Homo sapiens: one gene and its partners. The protein of the gene in region 3 interacts with the protein of the main gene of each other region in a pairwise test. Each region holds a gene or a part of one and is shown on either strand. Other genes may lie near its edges. The genes, in order: SPATA2, PFKFB4, CCDC102B and TFIP11.

Region 1 (7,378 bases), on a different chromosome or scaffold from region 3:
ATAATTAAGAAATTTTATTTAAAAATCTGGATTCCAGGCTGGACGCAGTGGCTGGTGCCTGTAATCCCAGCACTTTGGTGGGTCAAAGTGGGAGGATCACCTGAGGCTAGGAGTTTGAGACCACCCTGGGCAACACAGCAAGATCCCACGTCTTCAGAAAATAATTAACTGGGCATGATGGCATGAGCCTGTAGTCCCAGCTGTGTGGGAGGCTGGGGTGGGAGGATCCCTTGAGTCCAGAAGTTTGAGGTTGCAGTGAGCCATGATCATGCCACTGTACTCCAGTCTGGATGACAGATCAAGACCTTATCTTTAAATAAATAAATAAACAAACAATCTGGATCTCTAACTCCTCTCCAAAAATCAGAGTATCTGGTCATTCCTGGTGAGTGGGGATCTTGGCCACAAGTCAGCTGAAGCATGGAAGGAATTCAACAATATTTGTTTTCTCACTGAAGTACTTATTGGATGCCTACTGTGAGCCGGGTACCATGTTAGATTACATTACTCATTTCTGGTCCTACGCAGTGTGAGGCTATAGTACTCTAGTACCTCGTATTTGCCCACATTATGTGCTTGCAGGTAGCTGAGTTTGTGTTTTTGTTTTTTGTTTTTGTTTTTGCTTTTTTGAGACAGGGTCTCCCTCTGTGTCCCAGGCTAGAGTGCAGTAGCGTGATCTTGGCTCACTGCCACCTCCACCTCCCAGATTTAAGCGATTCTCCAGCCTCAGCCTCCTGAGTAGCTGGGACCACAGGTGGGCACTACTACAGGCTGGCTAATTTTTGTGGTTTTAGTACAGATGGGGTTTCACTGTATCGGTCAGGCTGGTCTCAAACTCTGGGCCTCAGGAGATCCGCCTGCCTCGGCCTCCCAAATTGCTGGGATTACAGGCTTGTGCCACTGAGCCCAGCCACAGGTAGCCGAGTTTTTGATCTCAGGTCCTTGCCTTTGATTGCTCCCTTTACTCCAGCTGGAAGGAAAGCTGGACAGCCTCACATGTCCAGGTCACTCAAAGCCCAGCTCAAATGCTACTTCCTCCTGGAGGCTATCCTTCATTTACCCTGTCAGAGGTCACTTCTCCATGCTCTAAGCTCTATACCCCTCTCATATCATTTACCATCTTCTATCCTGAATTCTAGGGTTTTATTAATCCTACTCCTATGTTATGAATATTCTCTTTCGGTTAAGGAGACTGGATGCTCTGTGAGGGCAGGAACTGTGTCTGTCTCACTCACAGTTATGCCCTTTAAACCTAACATCAGGGTGGGCATGGTGACTCATGCCTGTAATCCCAGCACCTTGGGAAGCCAAGGTGGGAGGATCACTTGAGCCCAGGAGTTTGAGAGCAGCCTTGGCAAAATTGCGAGACCCTCCCTCTACAAAACAGTTAACAAAATTAGCCAGATGTGGTGGTGTGCAACTGTGGTCCCCGCCACTCAGGAGGCTAAGGTGGGAGGATCGCTTGAGCCTAGGAGGTTGAGGCTGCAGTGAGCTATGATCATGCCACTACACTCCAGACAGGGTGACAGAGTGAGAGACCCTGTCTCAATTAAAAAAAAAAAATCTGACATCAAACTTGGCACATGGTAGGTATTCAGTGAAAATTCTGGTCAGAAACAAATTATGTTGAACAACCTATTGCATGCTAGGTAGTGCATATATGTCAGGTAGTAGTAATATAATTGTGAACAAAACAGACATAGTTTTGTCCTCATGGAGTTCACTGACTTCTGGGGGAGAAAGATATTAATACAGATCACATAAATGTGTGTTTGTGGAATGAAAGACAGATATCTGTATCTGTGTTCCTGTCCCCAGTTGACTTTTTTTGTTTTGTTTTTTTGAGACAGAGTCTCACTCTGTAGCCCAGGCTGGAGTGCAGTGGTGCCATCTCGGTTCACTGCAACCTCTGCCTCCCAGGTTCATGCCATTCTCCTGCCTCAGCCTCCCGAGTAGCTGGGACTACAGGCACCCGCTACTGCGCCTGCTACCACACCCGGCTAATTTTTGTATTTTTAGTAGAGACAGGGTTTCACTGTGTTAGCCAGGATGGTCTCGGCCTCTTGACCTCGTGATTTGCCCACCTCGGCCTCCCAAAGTGCTGGGATTACAGGCGTGAGCCACCGCGCCTGGCCATGCATCACCCTTTTTAAGTGATCCACAGTATTTGTTAGTATGGATATACCATTACCCCAGTGATGGAGATTTAAATATTTCCTATTATTGCTTTTGCATTAGAAACAATGATGCAAGAGGTCTCTTTGGGCACAGTGTATGTTTCTCTAGCAGATTTTGAGAAATCCAATTGCTGGGTCATGGGGTAGCTTTTCTGTTTTGCTTTTTGTTCTATACTCCTCTGTATTGTTGGAATCATGTATTACTTTGGTGATGGAAAAAAAAACTAAAAAATAGAAAGAGGTAGGTAGATTGTTCGTGTTGTTGGCTCTTCGGAAGTAGAAGTGCCTAATCATTGTCACGTGACCCTTACATAATCTGGTAATCATTATATAATAAAGTCGGGAAAGGACGCTCCTGTCATTTCTACATCACCAAGTAGAGAAATCACAAGCCTTCAACTGTGTTTAAAAGATGAGAAACATGGCCGGACACAGTGGCTCAGGCCTGTAATCCCAGCACTTTGGGAGGCCGAGGTGGGCGGATCACGAGGTCAAGAGATGGAGACCATCCTGACCACCTTGGTGAAACCCCATCTCTACTAAAAATACAAAAAATTAGCCAGGCGTGTTGGCGCGTGCCGGTAGTCCCAGCTACTCCGGAGGCTGAGGCAGGAAAATGGCGTGAACCCAGGAGGCGGAGCTTGCAGTGAGCTGAGATTGTGCCACTGCACTCCAGCCTGGGTGACAGAGCGAGACTCCGTCTCAAAAAAAAAAAAAAAAAAAAAAAAAACTGAGAAATGTGACTGTCTTTGGAGACTTTGGGTCTTTTCTGATAGTAGATGATGACCAGGGTTTCCTACTGGTAAAGCCCTTCTTCAAAATCTTTGTTTCTCTTTTGCCTGTCATAGACCCACAGAGCTGGAGGGGACTTTTTTAAGCAGCCCCACGTGAAAATGCAATATTGTAAGAGCTACCAAACCAGAGTGCTGAGTTGCTGTAAGAGGCAGACTTAAGGTGGGACAGTTTGTCTCAGATGGAATTCCTGTGAACATCATCACATTGCAGATAATTAAGAGAGGAGCTTAAACATGAGCTGATAAAGAACACAGGGACTTTGAGCGGTGCTCAGGCAACGACAGGTAAACACAGTAATGCTACTGTTTGGACAGCAGCAGATTGCTGGTTCTCCAAACGTTTCCCAGTATTGTGTCACTGACTCATCACACAAGCCCCACCGGTTTTAGCTGGGGTCACCAAGACTCAGAGTGAGAATCCTACAATCAATGAACATCTGTTGTGTGCCTCCTCATCAGACATGTGCAGAGCTCGGGGGGAAATAGATGAATAAGAAGCTCAGGGTCTGGTGGGGATGTCAGATTATATATATATATAGTTTATCCGAAAGTGCTGGGATTACAGGCGTGAGCCGCCGTGCCCGGCTTTTTTTTTTTTTTTTTTTTTTTTTTTTTTTTAAGAGACGTGGCCTCGTTATGTTGCCCAGGTTGGTCTCGAACACCTGGGAGCAAGCCATCCTCTCGCCTCAGCCTCCCGACTAGCTGGGACTACAGTCGCGTGCCACCACGCCTGGCTTTATTATTTAATATTACAGGTTAGAAAGCTGAGGCTCAGAGAGGTTAGGTAACTTGTCCAAGGTCACACAGCTAGTAAGTGGCAAAACTAAAAATAGAACCCACGCTCTTAACCGCCGCCCACGGCCCGTAACACCCGCAGCCCTAGCAAGGCTGGATTCCAATCACGCGTGATTTCAGCATCTCACTGGCTCTCTTTGAGCCTCGGTACTTCTGTCCGTAAAATGGGGGCGAGGGATCCGACCGTCAGCCCCTGCTTGCTTGTGCGGAGTCATGAGTACAGCTCGTGGATCATGATAAGTGGCAGGTCCGGGAAGTGGAGGCCGAGTTCACGCAGTCAGCACTCATAGCTCCCAGCTCCCTGCTCCTGAGCGGTTTCCATGACAACCCGGCCAGCCACCATCCCTAGGCCGAGCGGCTTGCGTCACGTCCGGCCTGTTTACTTCCGGGTCCCAGTCTCAGACGCAGCGATGGCTCGTTAGGCTCCAAAGTGCGGTTCCGCCGGTTTCGTCCTCGCTCTTCGGCCTTCCGCTTTGTCCTCCGCCTCTGGGTTGTAGTCTCCGTCGGCCGCGGGCATCGACCGCTTCCCGGAGCCAGCGCGCAGCCGTGGTCCACCCTCTCTTCGGGCCCGCCTCATGGTGACATCATTTCCGGGCCGAGTGTTTCCGGGTCGCTGCTGGCCCCCGGGTACTGGTCTCAGTACCCCTGCAGCCGGCCGGAGAGGCTAGAGCCCGACGGGGCCCGGCTCCGGCGGCAGCCGCGCCTCTCGCTTGCTTCCCTCGGCCGGGCCGTCCTCGGCGGCAGTGTCAGGGTGAGTGACGGGCGGCCGCGGGCGGAAACTGCCTTCGGGGCTTCCCCAGGCGGAGGGGGCGCCAGACAGCGGCAGGGCTCGGCTGGCCCGGGAGCGGGGTACCCTCACGGCAGGCAGGACTACAGGTGGGCCCGCTGTTTCGGCGCTCCCGGGACCCCCAGCCTATCCTCAGGACCCCCATTCTCCCGGGAGCTGCCTCGCAGGCTCCTGGGACCCGCCGAGGGTGGCTCAGGGCCGCCCAAGAGGAACACCCCTCTTCGGCGACTGGCCAAACAGAAGGACACCCCGATTTCGCCACGAGGCAGTTACCGCGCAGGGGTTCCCAGTTCAGGCTCTGGCGGCACACCTGGGTTTGTACTCACTGTGTGACCTTGGATAAGTCACTTCATCTTAAGAGCCTCAGTTGCCTATTTAAGTGATTGAACCTGGTTGCTAGGGCTGGAGTGGAGATGGAATGAGATCATGCAGGGCCTCTGGCATACAGCAGGCGTCCAATAAGTGATAGTTCCTGTTACTTCATTCAATTCACGAAGCCGTAGGGGGGGCCAGAATTTGAGACTGGGCTGTTTTTCACAACTGACGTGGCCCCCCGAGGCTGTAGGAATGACCGAGCTGGGACTTAGCAGCCGCCAGCTTCTGTCCCCTGCAGGGAGGGAAACAGCTTCCTTCAGAGCTTCTCCGAGAGAGGCAGCTGCCACTAGGGAAGCTTCTTTCAGCACCGCTGAGGTTATTTTCAGAGGTTTGGAAGGACTCTGTGTGAATTTCTTTGGAATCTAGTAGGAGTGTGGGGACCTTCTGGTGTTTCACAGCCAGTGGAAGGTGCCTTGGATGTTTCTCGGAGCCTCTTGCTTGGAACGAGTGCATTGGTGTGGGTGGGGAGGTGGAGGGGGTTGAACTGACTTCCCCGTCTCCTGTTTGGAGGCTGATGGAGCTAGACCAGGGATGTGTAAACCTGTGGACAGGGGCAGTGCACAGACCAAAATAGGTCTGCCTGTGCAGAGAGGGGGCGCCTTCAAATGCTGCTTGGGGAACATTTCTGCTTGAATGGGCCAGCTGAGGTAAAGCCAAGCTAATGCTTAGCTACTCGGAATCACTTCACTTCCATGCAGTGGGACTCTAAACAGATACAGCTTTCCTCTTAGATGTTCAAAAAATAACTAAAGAAGCCACTGGCTCCCTGACTGTGCAATATCTCTTTTTCCATTGACTTGCTTTTCAAGAAGGTACCTAGATTGTGGGTGCAGGAGGTGCTGACTGGAGCCGTTGACTCTGGGCACCTGCCTGTCTCTGTGTTCAGGATATTCACAGTGCTGTTTTTTTGTTTTTTGGGTTTTTTTTTTTTTTTTTTTCCACCAGACTGGCACGGCTTGGCGTTCCAATCCTTGGGTTGCTTGGAGAAATTAGCAGCTTCTGTCGCTGGGCTGTCTCGGTCTCCTGTAACCACGATGTTTTTGCAGAGAGCGTATTTTGTTGTTCTTGCAGAGTGCTGGGAATGAATTGCTGGCTCTGTGCTCAGAAAAAACACCAGCTATGACCAGCTACAAGGCATCTTGTATTCTCAGAAAATGTTTTCAGCAGGGATGATGTCAGCTGCTTCATCACTGGCCGATGTCTCTGACCAGCCTCTTTCCTTGGCCCTTGAGCTTACATCATATAGAGATTAGCTCTCCTAGCCCCATTCGGTGTGGGAAGATGGGAATTTTGCTACTACAGGAATTTTTGTAACTCAACTCTGCTCGCGCCGCCATAAGGCATTCTAACTTAGCCAAACACTTTCGAGTAGAGCTGTCCAGCAGATGCAGCAGGATGGCTTTGCAAGAGTCGGAGTTTTGGCGTTAGACCTAGGTTCAGAGCTCAGATCCACTTCTTCCTAGCCTTACGACTTAGGGTAAGTGAGTTGGCCTCTCCGAGCCTCAGTTTCCTCTTTAACCTTGGATCTATCCTGTGGATTTCATTGGTTTTCACAGAGCAGTTAGCAGAGGGATGCCACACAGTAATCCCTTGGTAAATGGTACTGATGTAACAATAAATGAGTGAGGTAAATTGGAGAAAGCCCAGGCATCAAGGGCCTCCCAGCAAGAGTTCAGATTCCAGCTCTGACCCTTTCAAACTCTGTTGGGCAGGTTGTTTTAATGGGAAGAGCCTGTTTTCCTTATAGAGTTGTGAGGATTAAATGGGATGATGTAGGTAAAGTGGGAAGCCCAATGCTTAGCACATAGTAGAACCTCAGTAATTGTTAGTCTCTTTCTTTCCTTTCCTTATTGACTGATTGAGACAAGGTCTTGCTCTGTCACCCAGGCCGGAGTGCAGTGGTGCCATCATAGCTCACTGCAGCCTCAAACTCCTGGGCTCAGTGGATCCCCCCACCTCAGACTCCCAAGTAGCTAAGACTACAGGTGGGTGTCACCACACCCACCTAATTTTTTTTTTTTTTTTTTTTGTAGAGACGGAGTCTAACTATGTTGTCCAGGCTTGTCTTGCCCTTAATTATCTTTTAGCTTTTACTTTCTTCCGCCTTTTCCCTCACCTACCCAGGTTGGTTTGAGATTTGTTTTAGATAGGCTTCCTGTCCTTATTGTGAGTATTTTGAACATCAGCTGGGCTGTTTGGATCCCTTTCCTTTATTTATTGTTTTTCAGCAACAAACAAGGGTGTGGACTGTGGTGCGATTATAGAGCAGCAGACGCTGAGCCGAGCTTGAGACTGGCTGACTTTGTAAAAAATCAGTCTCTTTGAGTTCAAGGCTGACTTCCTTGGAGAAAAATTACAGCAGTATTCGGAAGCTTAATGTCTCTGTGTTTGAATGGTTCTCAGACTACCAAAAAACAGACCCTGGGGCCAGAGGCGTGATGGCAGCTTCT
Region 2 (7,034 bases), on a different chromosome or scaffold from region 3:
AGGGTTAACTCAGCCTCTGGCCCTGGGGAAGGAAGGGGCCAGAGTGGGCCCTGAAGTGGGCAGTGAGGGCCGCAGCACAGGCTCTCTGGGGACTGGATTTCTCATAAGGACCAGCTGCTGCCAGGTCCACCTGCCTGGCCAGTCTCCTCCAGACTTGCAACGGCTGGGCTGGCCCTCCCCTTCCTTGGAGAGAATGCCCCAAGGAAGTTAGAAGGAGAGGATGCCTGTGCTCCCAGCAGGGGAGCAGACCCGTGGCACAGAAGAACCTACTCAGTGCTGCTCTGCACACAGTGGGCACTCAGTTTGTGTTTGACCAACAGGAATTGCAGTGAAACCAGTTAAACCTAGTAAACTGAACCTATGTTTATTTCTACTCCATCCTGACACCCCAGTAAAATGGGAACAGAAGGATAAAGAGAAAAAGAGATGACAGGAGAAAAAGGAGACAACAGGAGATGGAGACATCAACACAATTCTGTCAGAGAGATCCACGGTGACGGACTCAGAGTCATGTAGGAAACCAAACACAGGTGCTGGCCAACCAGAGCACACCACCTGTGCAGGACCAGAGCACTCCAGAGGGTGCAGTGGCATTGCTAAGAAAAGGGACAAAGGTGGGGACGAAATGGGAGGACTAGCTGGCTGATAAAGAAGAGCTGGAGGCCCAGGCCCCCTTCCCAACCCCATCCAGCCAGGCACTGACCCATCTGGAGCTCTTTGAGAAGTACCTGGGGCCTGCACAAGCATCCTCTGAGTAGCCTCCTGAGTAGCTGGGACTACAAGTGTGCACCACACCTCGGTTACAGCATCATTTTTTTGTTTTTATTTAAAAAAAATTTTTTTGAGACAGGGTCTCACTCTGTCGCCCAGGCTGGAGCGTAGTGGAGCAATCATAGCTCACTGCAGCCTCAACCTCCTGGGCTTAAGTTATTCTTTCGCCTCAGCCTCCCAAGTAGCTGGGATTACAGGCATGTACCACCATACCTGGCTAATTTTTTTTTTTTTTTTGAGACAGAGTCTTGCTCTGTCGCCCAGGCTGCAGTGCAGTGGCGTGATCTCGGCTCACTGCAACCTCCGCCTACTGGGTTCAAGCGATTCTCCTGCCTCAGCCTCCTGAGTAGCTGGGATTACAGCTACTTGTGCCACCACGCCTGGCTAATTTTTGTATTTTTAGTAGAGACGAGGTTTCACCATGTTGGGCAGGCTGGTCTCGAACTCCTGACCTCATGATCTGCCAGCCTTGGCCTCCCAAAGTGCTGGGATTACAGGGGTGAGCCACTGTGCCCAACCACATCTGGCTAATTTTTTTTTTTTTTTTGAGACGGAGTCTTGCTCTGTCACCCAGGCTGGAGTGCAGTGGCGCGATCTCAGCTCGCTGCAAGCTCTGTCTCCCAGGTTCACGCCATTCTCCTGCCTCAGTCTCCCATCTGCCTCCTGGGTTCAGGCCATTCCCCTGCCTCAGCCTCCCGAGTAGCTGGGACTACAAGCGCCTGCCACAACGCCCAGCTAATTTTTTGTATTTTTTTAGTAGAGATGGAGTTTCACTATATTAGCCAGGATGGTCTTGATCTCCTGACCTCGTGATCCACCCGCCTCAGCCTCCCAAAGTGCTGGGATTACAGGTGTGAGCCACCGCACCTGGCCCACACCTGGCTAATTTAAAAATTTTTCTGTAGACACAGAGTCTCGCTATGTAAGCTGGTCTCAAACTCTTGGGCTCAAGCAGTCCTCCTGCCTCAGACTCCCAAAGTGCTGGGATTACAGGCATGAGCCACCATGTCAGCCCAGCATCACTTTTTTAAAAAGGGCATCCAGCCAGGGCTCACTGGACACTCCAGCAAAACCTTTAACAAGAAAAACAGAAACTAAATCAAACAAACAAACAAAAAAAGAAATTTGGGCCGGGTGCAGTGGCTTATGCCTGTAATCCTAACACTTTCGGAGGCTGGGGCAGGCAAATTGCTTGAGGCCAGGAGCTTGAGACAAGCCTGCTCAACAAGGTGAAACCCTGTCTCTGTGAAAAATACAAGAATTAGCCAAGCATGGTGGCACGTGCCTGTAGTCCCAGCTACTCAGGAGGCTGAGGTGTGAGGATCACTTAAGCCTAGGAGACAGGCTGCAGTGAGCTATGATTGAGACACTACACTCCAGCCTGGGCAACAGAGCAGGACCATGTCTCAAGGAAATAAAAAACAACAACACTCATATACTTGTAAGATAATGTTGAAGAAGTCTTTCTCAAAACAAACAACCAAAAAAAACAGAGAAAATAAAGAGAAAGGCTGGGCGTGGTGGCTCACGCCTGTAATCCCAGCACTGTGGGAGGCAGAGGCAGGCGGATCACGAGGTCAGGAGATCGAGACCATGGTGAAACCCCATCTCTACTAAAAATACAAAAAATTAGCCGGGCACAGTGGCGGGGGCTTGTAGTCCCAGCTACTCAGGACGCTGAGGCAGGAGAGTGGCGTGAACCCAGGAGGAGGAGCTTGTAGTGAGCCGAGATCACGCCACTGCACTCCAGCCTGGGTGACAGAGCGAGACTCCATCTCAAAAAAAAAAAAAAAGAAAGAAAGAAAATTAAGAGAAAAAAGATAAAATCAGAATCTCAGAATCAAGCTAGCATGTAGCCACCAGAAGTTCTAGAAAAAGCAGCTCAGAAAATGGGAGTAGGGATGGAGTGAGTTGCCAGAAAGGGGCAGAGGTGATTTGTCAAAGAAATAATACATGACAATTTCCCTGACCTGGAGAACAAGAGTGTTATGATGAAAAGGGGCCCCCTAGGACCATGTATGGTGGAGAGAAGACCCACCACAAACCACATCACCTTGAAGACCCTAAAGGCCTCCCAAGCGGAAGGGGCATGAGAAACTCTCAGCTCCCTCTAAGAGATGAAGCTTTTAGGAAGATCAGCAAATCAGAATGACATGAGACTTCTCCACAGCCACACTAGAAGCCATAAGACATCAGAGTGATGTTGTAGAAGTTCTAAGGGAAAAGCACTTTCCACCTAGAAATTCTATACCCAACCATCAAATGTGAGGATTAAAAAAAGACATTTCAGATGTGCAAGGTCTCACACAATTTACCTCCCCAAGCACCTTTCTCAGGAAGTTACTGGAGGATGTGCTTCAATGAAACAAATCAGTAAGTCAAAGAGAGGATGATGTGGGATCCACAGGCAGAACATTCAACCCAGGAGAGAGAAGGGCAATGGCTGTGCTACAGGCACAGATTGTAGCTGGGGACAGAGAACTCCAGAAGGCATGACTCCAGGAAGAAGAAGGAAGGGAAAGAACAGCCCCTGTGTTTGACTATATAAGGCTGGGGTAGAGCCGTTTCCCACAGACACCCCAGTTTAGCCCTGTTCTGCTCTTCCGTCTGACTAGAAGGGCCAACACACAGGTGGAATCCCCTTAATCCAGGATTCAGTGGGTTCCTACAACAACCAGTAATGCTGGGCAGGATTCTCCCCACACCAGGAGAAATCACATTTACTAAAGACTTAGGCAACCTGATACCTGTAACTTCTGGGGTGGCCAAGAATACAAGCATCCAGAGGGAAGTCCTGCAGGGTCAAATGCGGCCACCACATGCCCAGAGGGAAACTCCTGGCCCATATCCAGTCTCTGGCTTCCTCCTGCATAGCTGTTGCAGACTTCCTCCCAAGGGCTGGCACCCAGAGCAGCTGGGGCACACACACCCTGCCTTCCCCTCCAGATGCCTGACGAGCAAAGGCACAGATGTGGATGGGCTCCCATGTGTCACTCCCAGCTGTCACCAGGGTGTCACACTCACCGCCACATGTCCCCCCTCCTCACTAAGGAACCGCCGGACGTCACGGAGGGCTGCCAGGGCACACTGCCTTCAGGAGAGAAAACACAGGGTCAGCCCAGCACCCGACCCTGGCTCCAGGAGGGTGGCCAGGGACACACAACAGGAGGAGACATGACAGGAGAAGGAACAGCCCCGAGGTCTCTTGCTCTCTTTTCAAAGTTTCCCTTCTCTTTCCTTAGGATAATGTTCAGTGTTTGGCTAACTCTGCTCCTGTGAGGTGGAAGGCTATACACTCTTGGCTATTAGGAACATTTTTTAAGCACTACGTTTCTGTATTTTCCCTCATCCTCTCATTGTGCACAAATCCATGCTGTCATTGTGCCACATTCATGATTTCTAATTGTCATATATTTTCCCTGATTATCAAAATAAGCCCCCCCCCGCCCGCCTTTTATTTATTTATTTATTTTTTTTGAGACTGAGTCTCGCTCTGTCACCCAGGCTGGAGTGCAGTGGTGCGATCTCGGCTCACTGCAACTTCTACCCAGTTTCAAGCAATTTTCGTGCCTCAGCCTACTGAGTAGCTGGGATTACAGGCGTGCACCACCACGCCCAGCTAATTTTTATATTTCAAAATAAGCATTTTTAAAAGCAGCCGTTTTCTTGTGTGCATGTCAGGAGTTGGTGGTGGGGATGGGAGGAACACTAGGGCTGGCCCTCGGGCAGTGTTAGGCTTAGTGCTCAACTTTCTTTCCTGAAAGAGAGTTCCCCAAACCACCCCTTCTGAGGGAGGGTTCTGCATCTCTTCTTCTATCATATCCATACCCTCCAGAATGGGAATCCCCCACCTATGACCAAACACTGACTATACAGTTTTCAGATCTTTTTTTTTTTTTTTTTTTTTTTTGAGATAAGGTCTCGCTCTGCCACCTAGGCTGGAGTGCAGCAGTGGGATCATGCCTCACTGCAGCCCAAACTCCTGGGCTCAAGCAATCTTCCTGCCTCAGCCTCCAGAGTAGCTGAAACTACAGGGATATGCCACCACACCTGGCTAATCTTTAAATTTCTTTTAGAGATGGGGTCTTGCTATGTTGCCCAGGCTTACACAATCTTTTTAAGTTCTCAGCTTTTTCATTTATTGCTGCAAAGTGGATTGACACAGAAGGTTTGTTTTTTTTTTTAGACAAGAGTCTTACTCTCTGTTGCCCAGGCTGGAGTGCAGTGGTGCAATCTCAGCTCACTGTAACCTCTGCCTCCCAGGTTCAAGCAATTCTTGTGCCTCAGCCACCCAAGTACCAGGGATTATGGGCACGTGCCACCACATCTGGCTAATTTTTGTATTTTCAGTAGAGATGGGGTTTCGCCATGTTAGCCAGGCTGGTCTCGAACTCCTGACTTCAAGTGATCTGCCCACTTTGGCCTCCCAAAGTGCTGGGATTACAGGCGCGAGCCACTGCACCCAGCCAGGATTATTCTCATCAATTTATCCTATGAGGTCTGGAGATAGATAAATTACCTTTTTATCTATTATCTTCCCTTTTTCTATGTAAGGGTAAAGCTAGATCTCCTAGCTTTGTGTTTTTTGTTTTTTGAGACAGAGTCTCACTTTGTTGCCCAGGCTGGAGTGCAGTGGCATGATCTCAGCTCACTACAACCTCCACCTTCTGGGTTCAAGCAATTATCCTGCCTCAGCCTCTCGAGTAGCTGGGATTACAGGCATGTGCCACCACACCCAGCTAATTTTTTGTATTTTTAGTAGAGATGGGATTTCACCATGTTGGCCATGTGGGTCTTGAACTCCTGACCTCAGGTGATCCACCCTCCTCAGCCTCCCAAGTGCTGGGATTGCAAGCTTGAGCCACAGTGCCCAGCCCTCCTGGCTTTGTTGATCTTTGGATTTTGTGTTTAAACTCCCAGCATGTCAAAGTCAAAGGGCTCTCATCAGGACGATATGCCTGAAATACAGCGGCAGAAGCTGATCTGAGAACCACAAAGAAATCAGTGGTAGAGCTGAGTCCAGGGCACTGAAAAGAGCTCTACTCTTACGGCTCCTTGTGACATTTCTTTTCTTTCTTTTGTTTTTTTTTTTTAAGAGACAGGGTCTCACTATGTTCCCCAGGCTGGTCTTTAACTCCTAGCTTCCAGTGATCCTCCCGCCACAGCCTCCCAAAATATTGGGATTACACATGTGAGCTACTATGTCCAGCCCTTGTAACCATTTCTGTGCCCCAATGGGTCTTCCAGTTAAAGCCTCAAAGTGCTTTCTTCCTCATGCCAAAAACATCTGAATTCTGAGAGTCCAGGTAACTGGCATTGGTAGGGACATTTCTCCTTAGAGCCCCACGTTCTGGGCTAAGATCTCTTTTGTGGGCTGCTCTGGCCATGACACCACCATGCAGGAGAGACCTCAGGGCCCCGGTGGAGATGCTGAGGGAAGAGCCTGGGAGCCTGTGTGTGTGCGTGTGTGTGTGTGTGTATAAGAGAGTGCAAATGGGGTGAAGAGATGCATATGTGCATGAATCCACACGTGTGGGTGGTTATGTGTGTGTTGTGCCCAAGTGTGTACATGTAAATCTGTGAGTGTACCTGTGTGAGTATTCCCTGGGCCCATGTATGAGCACAGGTGCACACACACGAGCGTGCACAACCCCTGTGTGCGGTATGTGACTAAATGGGCACAGGTATGAGTGAGTGTGCCCACATGTGTGCACACAGGATGTGTGTGCATGCACCCATGTGTATAAGTTTGTGTGTGTGTGTCCAAGCATATACAGAGTATGCATGTGGGGGTGACCATGTGTGTACACATGGTGTGTGTGTATACATGTCTTCATGTGCCATGTGACTGTGTGAGAACATATGCGATCATGCTTGGTGTGTACATGTGCACAGATCCACATGTGCATACAGGTGAACACAAGCGTATATGTGCCCACACACATGACTCTGAGGTATGCATATGTGTGTGCACCCACCTTCATGTGTAGTGGGTGACTGCATGTGTGTGGAAGAGTTAACACAGCAGGTATGAGAATGGTCCCCTTCGAAAGGCCTGCTTGTGAGGTTGGCCCTTGGCCAGGGTTGGGGAACTTGATGGTAAACAGTTCCCTCTAGTGATATGAAACTTTCCCTGAATTATAAGAGGAGCTCACTGTGCATAGACTGTTTATACAAACAACATGGTTTATGTTGATTATCTGCTTTCCTTCTGGGAGTCTGGAATTTTGGTACATGCTAGGCACAGGGTGCCTATATGACCA
Region 3 (7,034 bases):
GTTTAGAATCATACTATCATTAAGTAGGCTTTACTGAAGGAGTATCTTTTTGCCGTACACGAAAACAGATGAGGATAGTTGAAATGCAAAGATTTGGTCACTGACCTTGAGATTTTATTTTTGTACAGGTTTAGGTTGCATTCTAAGAATATATTCTATAGAAGACATTTTGTATAACTAGTGCTCCATCCTCAGTGCCCTGACTAATTGTAGATGCTCAATGGAGATTGTGAGCTTGAGACCTTGATTGTAAAATGGAAAACTAGATATTGTATTGGAGGTTGTGCTCAAGGCCATTTAATTGTAGTCATAGCTTTGCAAAGGACTGTTAACATTATTATATACTTAAATATTATCCAAGTTGATTTATATTTAATGATATTTCCTAAAAGAATTGCTGTTGTGTGTCATAAATATATTAAAATATTTGATGTTAAAATTTTGATAGAAGGATTTTTTTAGTAGCTAAAGAAAAAGGTGTCCTTAATATTGAGAAAAAAAACATATGCTCACTGAAGAATTTATAAATATATCTTATCATAGTGTCTGTTTCAAATTTGTAGAATTAAAGTTTCCAAAAATAAAAGTGAGATTTTTAGTCACTGACTCGGGAGCATATGTTTCTAAGCTGCAGTAAACGTTTGGAAATATAACACAGGTAAAGAGGCAATAGTTGCATGAAGAAAAACCTGTAGCAACTTTAGACTCATTTTCATTTGGAAATAGTTTTGAGAGTCTTTCATACAATCTTTCCTTTCCTCCCTTAGTGAATTTAGGATTGTGAAGGCATTAGGTGAAAGATTACATTTATGACCTCTGCAAAAGATCAAATAGTCTTATTAGTCAGCCTATATTCATGAATTTTCTATCTTCTTTTGACATGAAGGGTTTTGAACAAGCGTTTCTTCTCTGGATGAGAAGAAAATGTATTTCACAATAAAACATGAAAATTATAAGGTGCTCAGTGGGATTATAACATTTGGTAGCACAGGAAAAAAGAGAAAGATGTGGAAGTGCCATAATCCATTGGTGTTTCATATAATTCTAGAAGGTTCTGGTTATAACCTGTTCCTAATTTGGAGCTAGAATAATCTCAGGGATTGTCTGAGGGTTCAGGTGAGCTTTGTTCTATCTTTGTTTGGAAATCACTTTACAGGTATTGTCAATGGTAGGAATGAGTTGGGTCAAAGCAACTACGTAGAGTCCCTGCCATCCTATTTTTGATACTGCCCAGGCTTCTTCATTCTTTTTGTAATAATGAAACTTAAGTTATAGAATTTATGATTGCATGGATTAAAAACATGGATGTTGCAATTATGTCGTGCTACAAGTGCCCTCTAAAGGTGTTAATGCTATATGAATTTACTTGCTGGCTTTTATGTTTTTGATATGTTTTTATATTTTATGTTTTTGGTATCAGGACTAAATAAATTTGACCTGATAATGTAGATTAATGGGAGAAATTCCAGTATTCATGGATTAGAACTAGGAGGGCTATCTCAGATACAGGCTTCTCACAGAAGGCTGGGGCCTAAGCATAGGTACTGAATGCAAAGCTCTGGTCCTGGACCTCACATGGTCCATTCATTGTCTATGGTTGGCCGTCATTGTTTCCTCTGTGGCTATAAGTTTCTTCCATATTATTGAGCAGGATGTTTATCTGAATTAATATAAATGACATATTCGAGAAGCATAGATCTTTATCCAAAACGATATCAGAAGTAGAAATAGTGCAGAAGACAAACTCCACCTCCCATCTGCTGATTCTTTTGAAACCCCTTGGTCCTCTTATCTCTGAAAGGGATACATGGCTTTGTTCTCCCAAATATCCTATCCACTTTCCACGCTGTTTCAAAAGTATTTCTGGCCAAATAAATGTAAATCTTCATCTTTTGTATATACAGATAATCATCATAGGTGTATTTGTGAATTATTTAAGTACTTGGAAGAATGAAGTTGCTGATAGCAATTAAAGTGGTGTGATTGGGGTTAACCTCACTTAAAACTGTTTCTTTATTAATTTTAAAAGCCTATAAGCGTTTAATATCTAAAAGCCACCTTCTTTAGAGAAGACTGACTTATTTAGTGGAACTTGTAATGCTTGCCTTTTGGAAGAAAAGGAATAGTTCTAAGTCACTCTGTTTTAGATTTGTCCATTTAGTAATAAATGTCTACCATGTCTCAGACACTGTTCTAGCAATGGAAATAGAGATGTGAATAAAAAGTAAAACCCCTTTCTTTACATTAAGCATATAGTCTAGCTGGTAAAGCAGTAGAATCCATACATAGTATATAAATATATATTAAGTCATGATAAGTACTGGAAGAAAAAAAGAACATTCAGGCTAAAAGGGAATAGAATATTTACACACTCTTGAAATAACCAGGGAATGTCCCTTCTGTTAGGGTGAAGGATGTAAGATACTTAACCACGAGGAATCTTGGCAGAAGAGAAGTATAAAGGAAATCACATGTGCTAAAGTCTTAAGTCAGAAGAATGTCCCTTCAAGGAATGGCCAGATGGCCGGCAGCTGCTGGGAATGAGCGAGGCAGGGAGGCACAGGCAGAAGCTACTTTAAGAGGAAGTAAATCCAGCTTAAGCTTCAAGATATTAGGGTGGTGCAAAAGTAATTGCATTTTTTGCCATTACTTTCAATGGGAAAAATCACAATTACATGGTCACCAACCTAATATTATTTTACTTTTAAAAGGGCTCTTCATACCCCAACTGTAGGAGCCTCAGGTCGGGAAATCATGGGTCCTGATGAAGAGTTCAGGGATGGTTTATGTTTAGATCATGACAACATCATAAACTACAACCACTTTATTCTGAGTTTGATGGGAAGTCATTTGAATGTTGGGATCCTAGAAATATTGTAACATAAGTTGAGTGTTCAAAGCATCCACTCGGCTGTGCTGTGGAGAACATACTGGAGTAGGGAAAAGGTAGAAGTGGGGAGGCCAGATACCATACAGTATTCCAGGCAAGAGACAGGGTGGTTTGAAGGAGATATTAGAGATGGAGTTTTTGTAATTCTGCATAGGCTGTATTTCATATTTTCCTGCCAGAACTGATGGAGTTTCCAACAATGATGTGCAATGAAGAGACAAAGGAATCAAGGGTAACCCCTAAGTTTGGTCTGTAAACCTAGAAGAGTGAAATGTGCATTTATTGACACAGGGAACACTGTGGAGGAGCAGGTGTAGATGTGAGGGGAGTTCAAGTGTTTGTTTTTGAACATGTGAAATCTGAGATGCTGATTAGATATCCTTAGTGATGTTAAGTGGGCAGCTGGACACGTGAGATCCCAGAGATAAAGGAACATCTCAGGCCAGAGATATGTCTGTTAGGAAATTTCAGAAAATTAATGAATTTGAAGTCAAAGGCCTGGATGCCTTCACCCAGAGCAATTACCCCAGCCTGAAGTCTCAGTGTTGGAGCGCTTGCAGTCAGAGGTGTGAAGCTGAGACAGAATGTGGGGCAGCTACCAGGGAGTAGGAGGAGAACCATGAGAGAGGATGCCCTCAGAAGCCAAGAAAGGGAATGATGAAATGGACAATCACATACAGGGCTTCTGGTTGGCCAAGTAAAACAGGAATTTCAGGCCTGGAATTGACCATTAGATTTGCAATGTAGAAGTCACTGATTTCCTGTTTTTGTGGCAAACTAGAGTTGAAAATGATACTGCGACTTCAAGAGAAAATGAGATAAATGAAAGTGTCTTTAAAATAATTTTTATTTTAGAAAATGCCAAAGATATGGAATGGCTGCTGGGTTGGGATCAAAATCTTTTTTTTTTTTTTTATGTTGAGGGTATTATAGCATGTGCATTTGCTAATGGGAATAATCTAATCTAGAGAGAGGTACAAACTAGTTAAACAGGAGAGGAGTATATTTGAGGAGGCCATGTCCTGGAGCGGATTAGAGGAAATTAGATAGAGCATACAAATGGGAAGTTTGGTGTTAAGAACGTGGAGTAATTCTCTATAAAAACAGACAGAATAACATATGGGTATCCATTAGACACATAGATATGATGGAACCAGTGGATGGCAGTTGTCTTATAATTACATATCTTTTGTAAGTGAAATAGAAAAACCCCCGCAATCTCAACAGATAAGGCAGAGCTGAATAAGATATGAAAATTTTGAAGATAGCTAATGTATGGGATTATTCAGTAGAATGTTTGTGATTTAATCAGGGAAAAATATTAATTTCCCTATGGTAGAGTTGGCTTGGCTACATTAAAGCCCATATGAGGTTCAGAGTCAAGAAACTGAAGTGAGACCAGATAGCAATGGGTGTGTTTTCTCAAAGCCTGATCAAGAGTGTAGGTGCAGACATGGAGCAGGAAGACAGCTGTGATTCACTGACATTAGAGTTTCTAAGCAAGTAGGGTCAAGAGAATGCCAAGCTTGCTCAGAGCAATTTGTTAAAACTGGAGCACAGAATAGGGAGGAGAGAGTGGATGTGAAGCCGATGAGGAAGAGAGAAAAAACAATACAGTCCATTGACAGGAGGCCATAGCTAGGTCAAAAAAGAGAGTTATGGGGACAATAGTAAAGGGTAATCAGAGAGGTGCTTATCATTGATATGGAAAGAAATGCTAGTATGGTAATGGGATCTAGGTGCATAACCAGCCAGTGAGTGGGTGAGGTCATATTATTGGAATTAATAGGAACTGAGAGGTGAGGATGTTGTAACGACACTATATATGAAATACTTTGGACATGAAAATTTTTCTTGTCCCTGAAAACATATTCAACTTCTCCTAACCTATTAACATAATTGGTTTCATTATATAAATGTTAATACCCATTCCCATGCCAAGACTCTACAGTGTTGTCAGTGATCTCATTTACTTTTCTCTCTGCTTATGTAACATTTTGATCAGTCCTACAGACTGTATTAAAGAGCAATCTTCAGCCAGTGATCAAAGCAAGACAAAGAAGCCTTCAAATACAGCAGATTACAAGCCCATAATTTTTTTATGTGTTTATCATTTTGCCAAAATTTTGGATAAAAATAAAATTATATGTATTAATAATGTTAAGAACACATGAATTAATATTATTTTTAGGTTTTTATTTACAACTGCTGTTTTAACAATGACATACATTTTTAAAATTAATAATTATTTTTTCCCATGTTGTCTAAACAGCTTTAAATATATTTTAATGGGATGTCTCAAAGCTTAGATAAGAATGCTCAGCAAACATATCCAATTTTTAAAATGATATTCATTTTATTTTTGTATGATTATTGCAACATCACCTCTTCTGTATTATGTGGCCATGTGGAAGAGAATGAGAATGTCACATTCACTTACCTTTGAATAGCAGGCTACTTTGGTATGCATTTTTATTATCAGTAGAATATGTTTTTCAAGCATATATTTGCAAGTAATATTATTAGTAATTATCTTAATTTCCTGTATTTAGGAAACCTCTAGGTGTTAGAGACAGCAATATTGCCAAAACATTCTGAACATGTTTGAAAAAAATCAGAATGCAGTTTTCTATTTCTGTAAAATTCTCTGTGGAAAAAGAGAAGCTCTTAAAGTCTATTGGATGCTCTACAGCTATTTTGTCCAATAGAAATATAATTCAAGCAACATTTGCAATTTAAAGTAGCTACATTTAAAAAGTTAAAAAATGAACATGTGAAATTAATTTTAATAATATTTTTGATTTAATCCAATCTTTCAAAAATATCACTTCAAAATGTAATTAGTATGAAGTTATTAATGAGATAGTTTACATTTTTACGTTTCATGCTGTGTTTAATTAGTACTCACCGAACATCACAATTCAGGCGACCCTCATTTCAAGCGTTCCCTAACTACATCTGATAGGTGACTACCATTTAAGACAGCACAGGTTTAATACTCCAGAATATAAACGGTTCAAAAATATCTTCATAGCAACCATAGAATACATTTCAGGCATTGTATTTATCTCCTTGTTGAAAGGGGGAACACATATGAGTTTGAACGACCTTATCAAGGAAGAGAATTTACCTCACATTTTCTGAACCAGTGTTCTCTGGGTTCTACTATAGCTCTCATGTTATCATATTTACATACTTATGTTATTTTGATACTGAGAAGTATGTTAAAGATGGTGGCCTCTAGAAACAACTGGGACCAATATATTCTCTGCTTGCTATAATTTAAGAAAATTTACTAATTTAAGAAAATTTAACAGGTGTGAAAATCAGGCAATGATAAAAATGATAAAACTCAATTTAGGAGTCCACACAATTCTTAGTACTTTTTCTCTTTTTTTATAAATTAAATGCAATGTATAGATCTGGGAAATCATGAGATATTTAAGAAAAACAAGGAAAAAATAGAGTTTTTGAGGAAGAATTAAGATATGACGTTACAGGAATTACTTGGGAAAGAGTTGAAGACAATAATTACATGATTGGGAGGCAAAATAAAAACCAAGCAAGCTTTGAGAAATGTAAGAGTTTAATCTGGTCTTCCACTCTTTGCAGCTTTCCTTGCACATGGCGTCCATTTTCTGTTTTAGGGACTGGAAAGACAGATCTTTTGAGAAATACAAACACTGAGTATTCACTTCCTGTTATTTTGACATTTTTAATCCAATTCCTTTACTTGTCTTTACTAAGACAAACAACTATGCAAAAATGAAAGGAAACAAATGAAAACGGATCCCAGATCAATCAGCAGTTGTGTTAAGGATTCTACTTTCTAGTTAAATTTTTTATTTTCTTTATTGCTACCTTCTCCTATGTCAAAGGATGAAAACCAGAAATATAAACACTTAAAAAAAAAGATGATTGCAGAGTTGGTGGCCTCTATGTCTGAATAAATTACTAATTTATTTTGGCTAACATGGAGAAAATATGAGCAGGGATGAACGTTTCACTAGGATTTGAGCAACTAATCTTCGAATCAAAAGCTAACTTTTTTTTCTTAAGATTCCACGTCTTTTCCTTCTCAAGATTACAAACTCATCTATAAGTTTCATATTATAGATGTAACTTTCCCAGTGAAATCAACATT
Region 4 (7,000 bases), on a different chromosome or scaffold from region 3:
CCATGTTGCTCAGGCTGTAATCTGCTTTTAAAGGTCAAATTTAAGCTCCCGACATAGCGATTCTTAAAATATATATGTGTATATATATACACATATATATATGTGTGTGTGTGTATACATATATACATATATATGTGTGTATATACATATATGTGTATATACATGTGTATATATACATGTATATGCATGTGTGTATATATATACATATATGTGTGTGTGTGTGTGTGTATGTATATATATTTTTTTTGCTAACCTGGAAATAACTCCCTAATAATTTAGAGTAAAATACCACAAAAATTTTAGAACTCCAATGGCTGTCCTATTACCAGAAGCCAAAACCAATCGGGAAAACCACAAGGCACAGAGTCCGATATTGTCACTGTCGACTATTAGTGACTGTTGTAAATAAACAGCGGAAAGGACCCAAGTTACATTTATGTTCAGCCTCTGAACAAAATGTTACCTTTTTCACAGCAAGGAATATTGTGTACTAAGCACTTTCATGAACATAAAGGCGATGCTTTAAATCATCACTGCTAACCACAGAAACCAGGGCACCAAAGCTGCTGGGCTTGGAATGCATTTCCCCTTATCCTTACCCAGCTTGGGCACTATGTTTTTGACCATGAATGCTTCCCAGGAGCCAGGAGTGAAGACATCCTTCCAGGGCTGGAGGATGAGCTTGGCAGAGGAGTCGCTGGGGTGCCACTTCTGCAGGGCGCTGGACAGCTTACTACGGATGGGGGAATAGAGTGGCTCCAGCCGTGCCTGCATAAGGGGCAGCCATGGGTGGATCCAAGAGTGGATGGGAACAGTGTCTGTGAGCGGGTTCCAGTTTTCCACCTGCGAAGTGGGGAGGAGAAACAGTTCATGTCGCCTGTGGGGCAGTCACATAACACCCCTGTGTGGCTAAAGGCAAGAGCTGCCCCTGGAGGAGGCCCTGTGCTCTCTGAGGCCCACAGTCCTTTGTACATTGCCAAACAAATATGCCCATCCATTTGATTACATCTCAGAAACAGCACAATTCTAATTTTAGTGACAAAATCAAGAAAATGAATTCCCTCCTGAGGGTGGCTTGGGGGAAAAAGTGCTGAGAAAAAGGCTGGAATTAACACTATAGGTCAATAGTTGTGTTGACAAATTCCGTTAATTCCAGGCGTTTTAACAGCACTGAGATAATGAAGCCACAGACTGAACAAGTCCCTGTGATTAGTGATGACGACTGTTTCCCATGACTCTCATCCCACCTCCTTTTGCAGCTTGGGGAAGATGAGTTGGTCCAGTATGTTATCTAAGATCCACACAGGAATAATGTGCACCCAACTATCCAAAAAGTCCACCATCGGGTCACAGTTCCTTGGCTGCCACTGGGTGACAATATTTCGAACAAAAGGCATCCAGACTTCCCATATCAACCTATGGGAGAAAGGCAGAGGACAGGCTGGTTAATTACACTGACTGGTTTCAAAGTACACCACCACCACCTGCCTCTCTAGAATCAGGAATAAAAATGCAACAGCATGGAAATCCAATCAGAGGAAACCATCAGGCCAGTCACCATACTGGCCAGACTGAGCCTGCCTCTTCCTTGTTCTCTTGACTCTCCTCTCAATCTGAGGCCTCAGTCTCCTAGGTAGTGCCCATCCACCTGGCAGAGCTGCTTTAGGGTCACAAGGGCCTCTTCCCAGGTATCAAGTGCTTTCCCACCTATAGGCTTCTATTCATGAGCTGATGCCTCTCACCCTCTTATCACAATTTCAACGTCACCTCCCCTAAGACCTCTGTGCCAACCCCCGTTCCAAGTAGGTTGCTCCTGCAGTTCTCTATCGCTGTACCTGGTGTGCATCCTGCCTTTATTTGTTCACTACCTTACTTCCCATCTGCTTTTTTTGCTGTACTGTAGACAGAGGCTGTCTGCTGTGCTCCTAGGGTAAGCCCAGCACCTAGCACAAGCATGATACGCAACAGACATTTGACAAGTGTCAGCTGAATTCATGGCCAAATGTAATTGTACAACCACTATGGAAAACAGTGTGGAGATTCCTTAGAGAACTAAAAGTACAACTACCATTTGATCCAGCAATCCCACTACTGGGTATCTACCCAGAGGAAAAGAAGTCATGGCTGGGCACGGAGGCTCACGCCTGTAATTCCAGCACTCTGGGAGGCCAAGGCAGGCGGATCACGAGGTCAAGAGATCGAGACCATCCTGGCCAACATGGTGAAACCCTGTCTCTACTAAAAATACAAAAATTAGCTGGGCATGGTGGCGAGCGCCTGTAGTCCCAGCTACTCGAGAGGCTGAGGCAGGAGAATCGCTTGAACCCGGGAGGCAGAGGTTGCAGTGAGCCGAGATCGTGCCACTGCACTCCAGCCTGGCGACAAAGCAAGACTTCATCTCAAAAAAAAAAAAAAAAAAAAGTCATATACGAGAAAGATACTTGCTCACACAAATTTACAGCAGCACAATTCGCAGTTGCAAATATGTGGAACCAACCCAAATGCCCACCAATCAACAAGTGGATAAAGAAACTGTGGTATAAATATAATGGAATATGACTCAGCCATAAAAAGGAATGAAATAATGGCATTCGCAGCAAGTTGGTTGGAATTGGAGACTATTATTCTAAGTGAAGTAACTCAAGAATGGAAAACCAAACATCTTATGTTCTCACTTATAAGTGGAAGCTAAGTTATGAGGATGCAAAGGCATAAGAATGACACAATGGACTTTGGGGACTCGGGGAAAGGATGGGAAGGGGGTGAGGGATAAAAGACTACAAATTGAACCAGGCACGGTGGCTCACGCCTGGAATCCCAGCATTTTTTTGGAGGCCAAGGCGGGTGGATCACGAGGTCAGGAGATTGAGATCATTCTGGCCAACATGGTGAAACCCTGTCTCTACTAAAAATACAAAAATTAGCTGGGCGTGGTGGCGTGTGCCTGTGATCCCAGCTACTTGGGAGGCTGAGGCAGGAGAATCGCTTGAACCAGGCAGTTGGCGGTTGCAGTGAGCTGCGATCACGCCACTGCACTCCAGCCTGGTGACAGAGTGAGACTCCATCTCAAAAAAAAAAAAAAAAAAAAGACTACAAATTGGATTCAATGTATACTTCTCAGGAGATGGGTACACCAAAATCTCACAAATCACCACTAAAGAACTTACTCATGTAACCAAATACTACCTGTTCCCCAAACCCTATGGAAATAAAACATTTCAAAAAAATTAAAAAAAAAAAATTCATAGCCAAATGAATTTAAATTCCTAAAGCACTGTCAGCATGAGCAGAGAATTAATCAAGGCCAGCACTGCTGCCTTCCCCCACCTTCAGCAATCCTTCCCAACCCCCCAGGAGAAAGGAGCTGGGGTACAGAGCCCTGCTCTGTGGTGTACCTGTGAAAGGCATCTGCTGAGAGGTCCTGTCCGCCATGGGACAAGAGCTGGTCATTCTCTAGGAGGCTTTTCCACTTAGAGATGATCTCGGTGCCATAAGTGCAGTCCTGAGGAGAAAGGTGAGCAGTTGAGGGGCAGCGGGCTCTCCAGCCCTCCCTGCCCATTGAACCAACTCATCAAGCAAGGGTAAGCCCAACCGAGAGGCAGGGATAGGTTGATTTTCCCAGCAACTCACTTTGAGGGGATCCCACTCCTTGAAGTACTCCTTCATGAGTGGATAGACGATGGCCACAGCAAGGTCCACACGGTCGGACATCCTGTACTCCTCATAGTACTTGTCCTGCAGGGTTTCGAAGATGCGGGCACACTCGTCCAGGGTGAGGGGGTTGCTGCAGTCGGGCTGCATCCGCCGCTCGCACTCCTCCACCATCTCCAGGACCTTGCTGAGGTTCGAGATGACCCGCTCCTCGTGGTCCAGGACCTCGGTCATCTTCTCCAGCTCGTGGAAGAGGTTGACCACCATGTCCCGCTCATACTGTAGCTGCCGGTCATTCTGGATGATCTCCTGCTCCGTGAGGTCGATGAGCAGCTGCAGGTTGTGCTCCAGCTCGGGCAGCGCGAAGCCGGGGGCCTTGGCCTCTTTGCCAGACTGTGGCAGCTGTTGGGACTGTAGCGGCAGCCCATCATCGGGAACGTTGTGCTTGTGGCTGATCTGACTGTAGCTGTAGTAGACCTTCTGCTCCCGGCCTGTCATGTCTATGACCTTGGAAAACATAGAGGGATGAAGGTTAACACCGCTGCAGCCCTGTTAAACACACAGCTAAGCCCAGGGGAAGGCCCCATGACAGGGGAAGTGTGTAGAAACCACATTATTCAACAGAGCTGGAGAAGGGCAGTGTTGTAAAGTGGGAACCATACTGTCCTAGCCTAAAGGAGACTCCAGGGACAAAATCAGATGCAGCAAGCAGTTCTAGGTTGGATCACTGTGAACAAGCCAGATGGAGAAGACTTTTTAGGGAAACATGAAATTTAAATAGGGACTGAGTATTAGTAGATGTGAAAATTTATTTTAATGGAAAGGTAGAAGCTGTACTGATCAAAGAAGGTAACATACAATCAGAATATCACATTTTGATTTAAAAAATGCACATAAGCATAGAAAAAGATCTAGGATGTATAACAAGATGTTAACATTTGGTAATCTTGGAAGGATGGAAAATATTTTCTACATTTTTGCCTATTTCCTAATTTTCTAAAATGTACTACACACTGCTGTGTAATAACAAAGTTTTTTTAAATTTAATTTATTTATTTATTTTGAGACAGAATCTCGCTCTGTTGCCCAGGCTGGAATGCAGTGGCACGATCTCAGCTCACTGCAAGCTCCGCCTCCTGGGTTTAAGCCATTCTCCTGCCTCAGCCTCCCAAGTAGCTGGGACTACAGGCGCCCGTCACTACACTTGGCTAATTTTTTGTATTTTTAGTAGGGATGGGGTTTCACTGTGTTAGCCAGGAAGGTCTCAATCTCCTGACCTTGTGATCCGCCTGCCTCAGCCTCCCAAAATGCTGGGATTACAGGCATGAGCCACTGCGCCCAGCCTTTTAATTTTAAAACAAAATAAAATATACAAAAGGCTAACTGAACAAAGGCAACCTAGACAATGAGCTAATTCCAATATTTTAGGAAAACAGGAAATGTGAATACGGACTACACTTCTGAAACAGAATGATTCATCACCACTTTTTAAGTAAGAGTGTGATCCATGAACCACCAGCTTTAGACTCACTGGAGGAAAAAAAAAAAAAGAGTCCTGAGGTTCAGTCTAGACTCAATTCCTGGGAGGCACCTAGACACTCTTATTTCTTATCAGGTCGTCCAGATAACAGCACGTTTGAGAACCCCACTAAAGGCTTTCTTTGAGGTCTATGACACACTACATATCCTACAGCAAATGACAACAGGCAACTGTCACCACTGTTCTTTGACTACTTGGAAAAGTAACGGAAAACTTTTTTTTTTTTTTTTTTTTTTTGAGACGGAGTCTCGCTCTGTCCCCCAGGCTGGAGTGCAGTGGCACGATTTCCGCTCACTGCAAGCTCCGCCTCCTGAGTAAATGCCATTCTCCTGCCTCAGCCTCCCGAGTAGCTGGGACTACAGGCGCCCACCATCACATCCGGCTAATTTTTTGTATTTTTAGTAGAGACGGGGTTTCACCATGTTACAGGACGGTCTCGATCTCCTGACCTTGTGATCTGCCCGCCTAGGCCTCCCAAAGTGCTGGGATTACAGGCGTGAGCCACCATCCCCAGCCAAGTAATGGAAAACTTAATACACTACATGGACGTAACAGTGGCTGAAAATTTAATCTATCTTAAAAAAAGAAAATACTCAATGCTGGCTAAGGAGCCCTGGGGACTCTCTCCTGCCCTCCTGGTCAGAGAGAGTTAATACAACCTTCTGAGTATTTAAATGCCTTAAGTACTTTTGTATTCAACATGGTGATTGCACATGTACATGTCTATCCTTAAAAAATGTCTGAAACAAAGACAAAGTTTTATATACAAACTAACCAGCCAAAAACCCAAACTAAACCAGATAAAAGCTAAATGTCTAACAACGGAGGTAGGATCAAATAATACAGCACAGCCACTCTCTGGAATTACGTGCTCATTATAAACACTTTGCACTGAGTTTTTAATAACAAGAATGTTATTAAATTCACTGATGTAAGCTCCAGAAACACAGGAACATCATTTGGTTTACCAGTGTAGTGCCGTGAAGAGTGCCTAGCAGAGAAGGAACTTGGTAACTATTACTAAATATGGGAGTGTAATGAATAGGAACATGATATTAATACTATGTGAGCATGTTCCTATTCATTACACTCCTATAAATAAGTGAGAAAAGCAAGGTACCAAAAAAAAAAAAAAAAAAAAAAGCCTAGCTAAAAGATCCAAAAAACCCTCGAACATGTTCAGTGATTATTTCTGGGGTGTGGATCCTGTACCAGGTGTCCAAGGGCCCCTGTACCTTGACTTGAGAAAGTTCCTTCTGGGGAGCAGTGAGCTTCTTGCTAATCCTGCCCTTGGCCTTCAACTCTTCCACGGTCTTGTAAGAGTATTTGGGCTTCTTCTTGCTTCCACTTGGGTCTTTCCTCCACTGGCTCAGCTCCTTCTGAAACTCCTGAACCAGAAGAATACAGTCAGATGCAGCAAGGAACAACCACTTTTTACCACAGGTGAGGTAGCTGAGACCATTAGCAGATGTCACCATTCACTGTCTTAGATTTATTTACAAGCTCTATATGAAGGAAGGAAAGGATGCACCTGCAAGACACCAAAACTATCTAATGATACTCCTTGACCCCATTCGCCCTCTTACAAATAATGAGGTTCAGAAGGCAGGTACACCAGATGGGAGGGAGAAACAAAAATAAAGATAAACGAAACAACATTTATTGAGCATCTACTATGGGCAGGCACTATACTACTTTTAAATGTACCTCATGTAAAACTTAGAAATGCAATGTAAAGGATTTTTTAAGCACACAAAACCTTGTTTCTAACTTTAAAATGAAGATAAATAAGCAGGCCCTAACTCTCAA

The links.
Region 1: the proteins of CCDC102B (region 3) and SPATA2 interact in binary tests that used the Homo sapiens proteins (3 or more experiments, as listed by UniProt).
Region 2: the proteins of CCDC102B (region 3) and PFKFB4 interact in binary tests that used the Homo sapiens proteins (3 or more experiments, as listed by UniProt).
Region 4: the proteins of CCDC102B (region 3) and TFIP11 interact in binary tests that used the Homo sapiens proteins (3 or more experiments, as listed by UniProt).

What each region holds. Positions count from the first base shown.
Region 1 is NC_000020.11:49,912,519-49,919,896, reverse strand, and holds the start of SPATA2 (spermatogenesis-associated protein 2), read left to right. Parts: upstream 1-4,367; 5' UTR 4,368-4,517; exon of another isoform or gene 4,518-4,867; intron 4,868-6,194; exon of another isoform or gene 6,195-6,405; intron 6,406-6,935; exon of another isoform or gene 6,936-7,378.
Region 2 is NC_000003.12:48,539,785-48,546,818, forward strand, and holds part of PFKFB4 (6-phosphofructo-2-kinase/fructose-2,6-bisphosphatase 4), read right to left. Parts: intron 3,863-7,034; coding exon 3,796-3,862; intron 1-3,795. UniProt on the Homo sapiens protein: Synthesis and degradation of fructose 2,6-bisphosphate.
Region 3 is NC_000018.10:68,801,075-68,808,108, forward strand, and holds part of CCDC102B (coiled-coil domain-containing protein 102B), read left to right. Parts: intron 1-7,034. UniProt on the Homo sapiens protein: During interphase, forms fibers at the proximal ends of centrioles to maintain centrosome cohesion. During mitosis, dissociates from the centrosome following phosphorylation to allow centrosome separation. Contributes to CROCC/rootletin filament formation.
Region 4 is NC_000022.11:26,495,474-26,502,473, forward strand, and holds part of TFIP11 (tuftelin-interacting protein 11), read right to left. Parts: intron 6,580-7,000; coding exon 6,427-6,579; intron 4,159-6,426; coding exon 3,631-4,158; intron 3,503-3,630; coding exon 3,396-3,502; intron 1,417-3,395; coding exon 1,248-1,416; intron 844-1,247; coding exon 600-843; intron 1-599. UniProt on the Homo sapiens protein: Involved in pre-mRNA splicing, specifically in spliceosome disassembly during late-stage splicing events. Intron turnover seems to proceed through reactions in two lariat-intron associated complexes termed Intron Large (IL) and Intron Small (IS).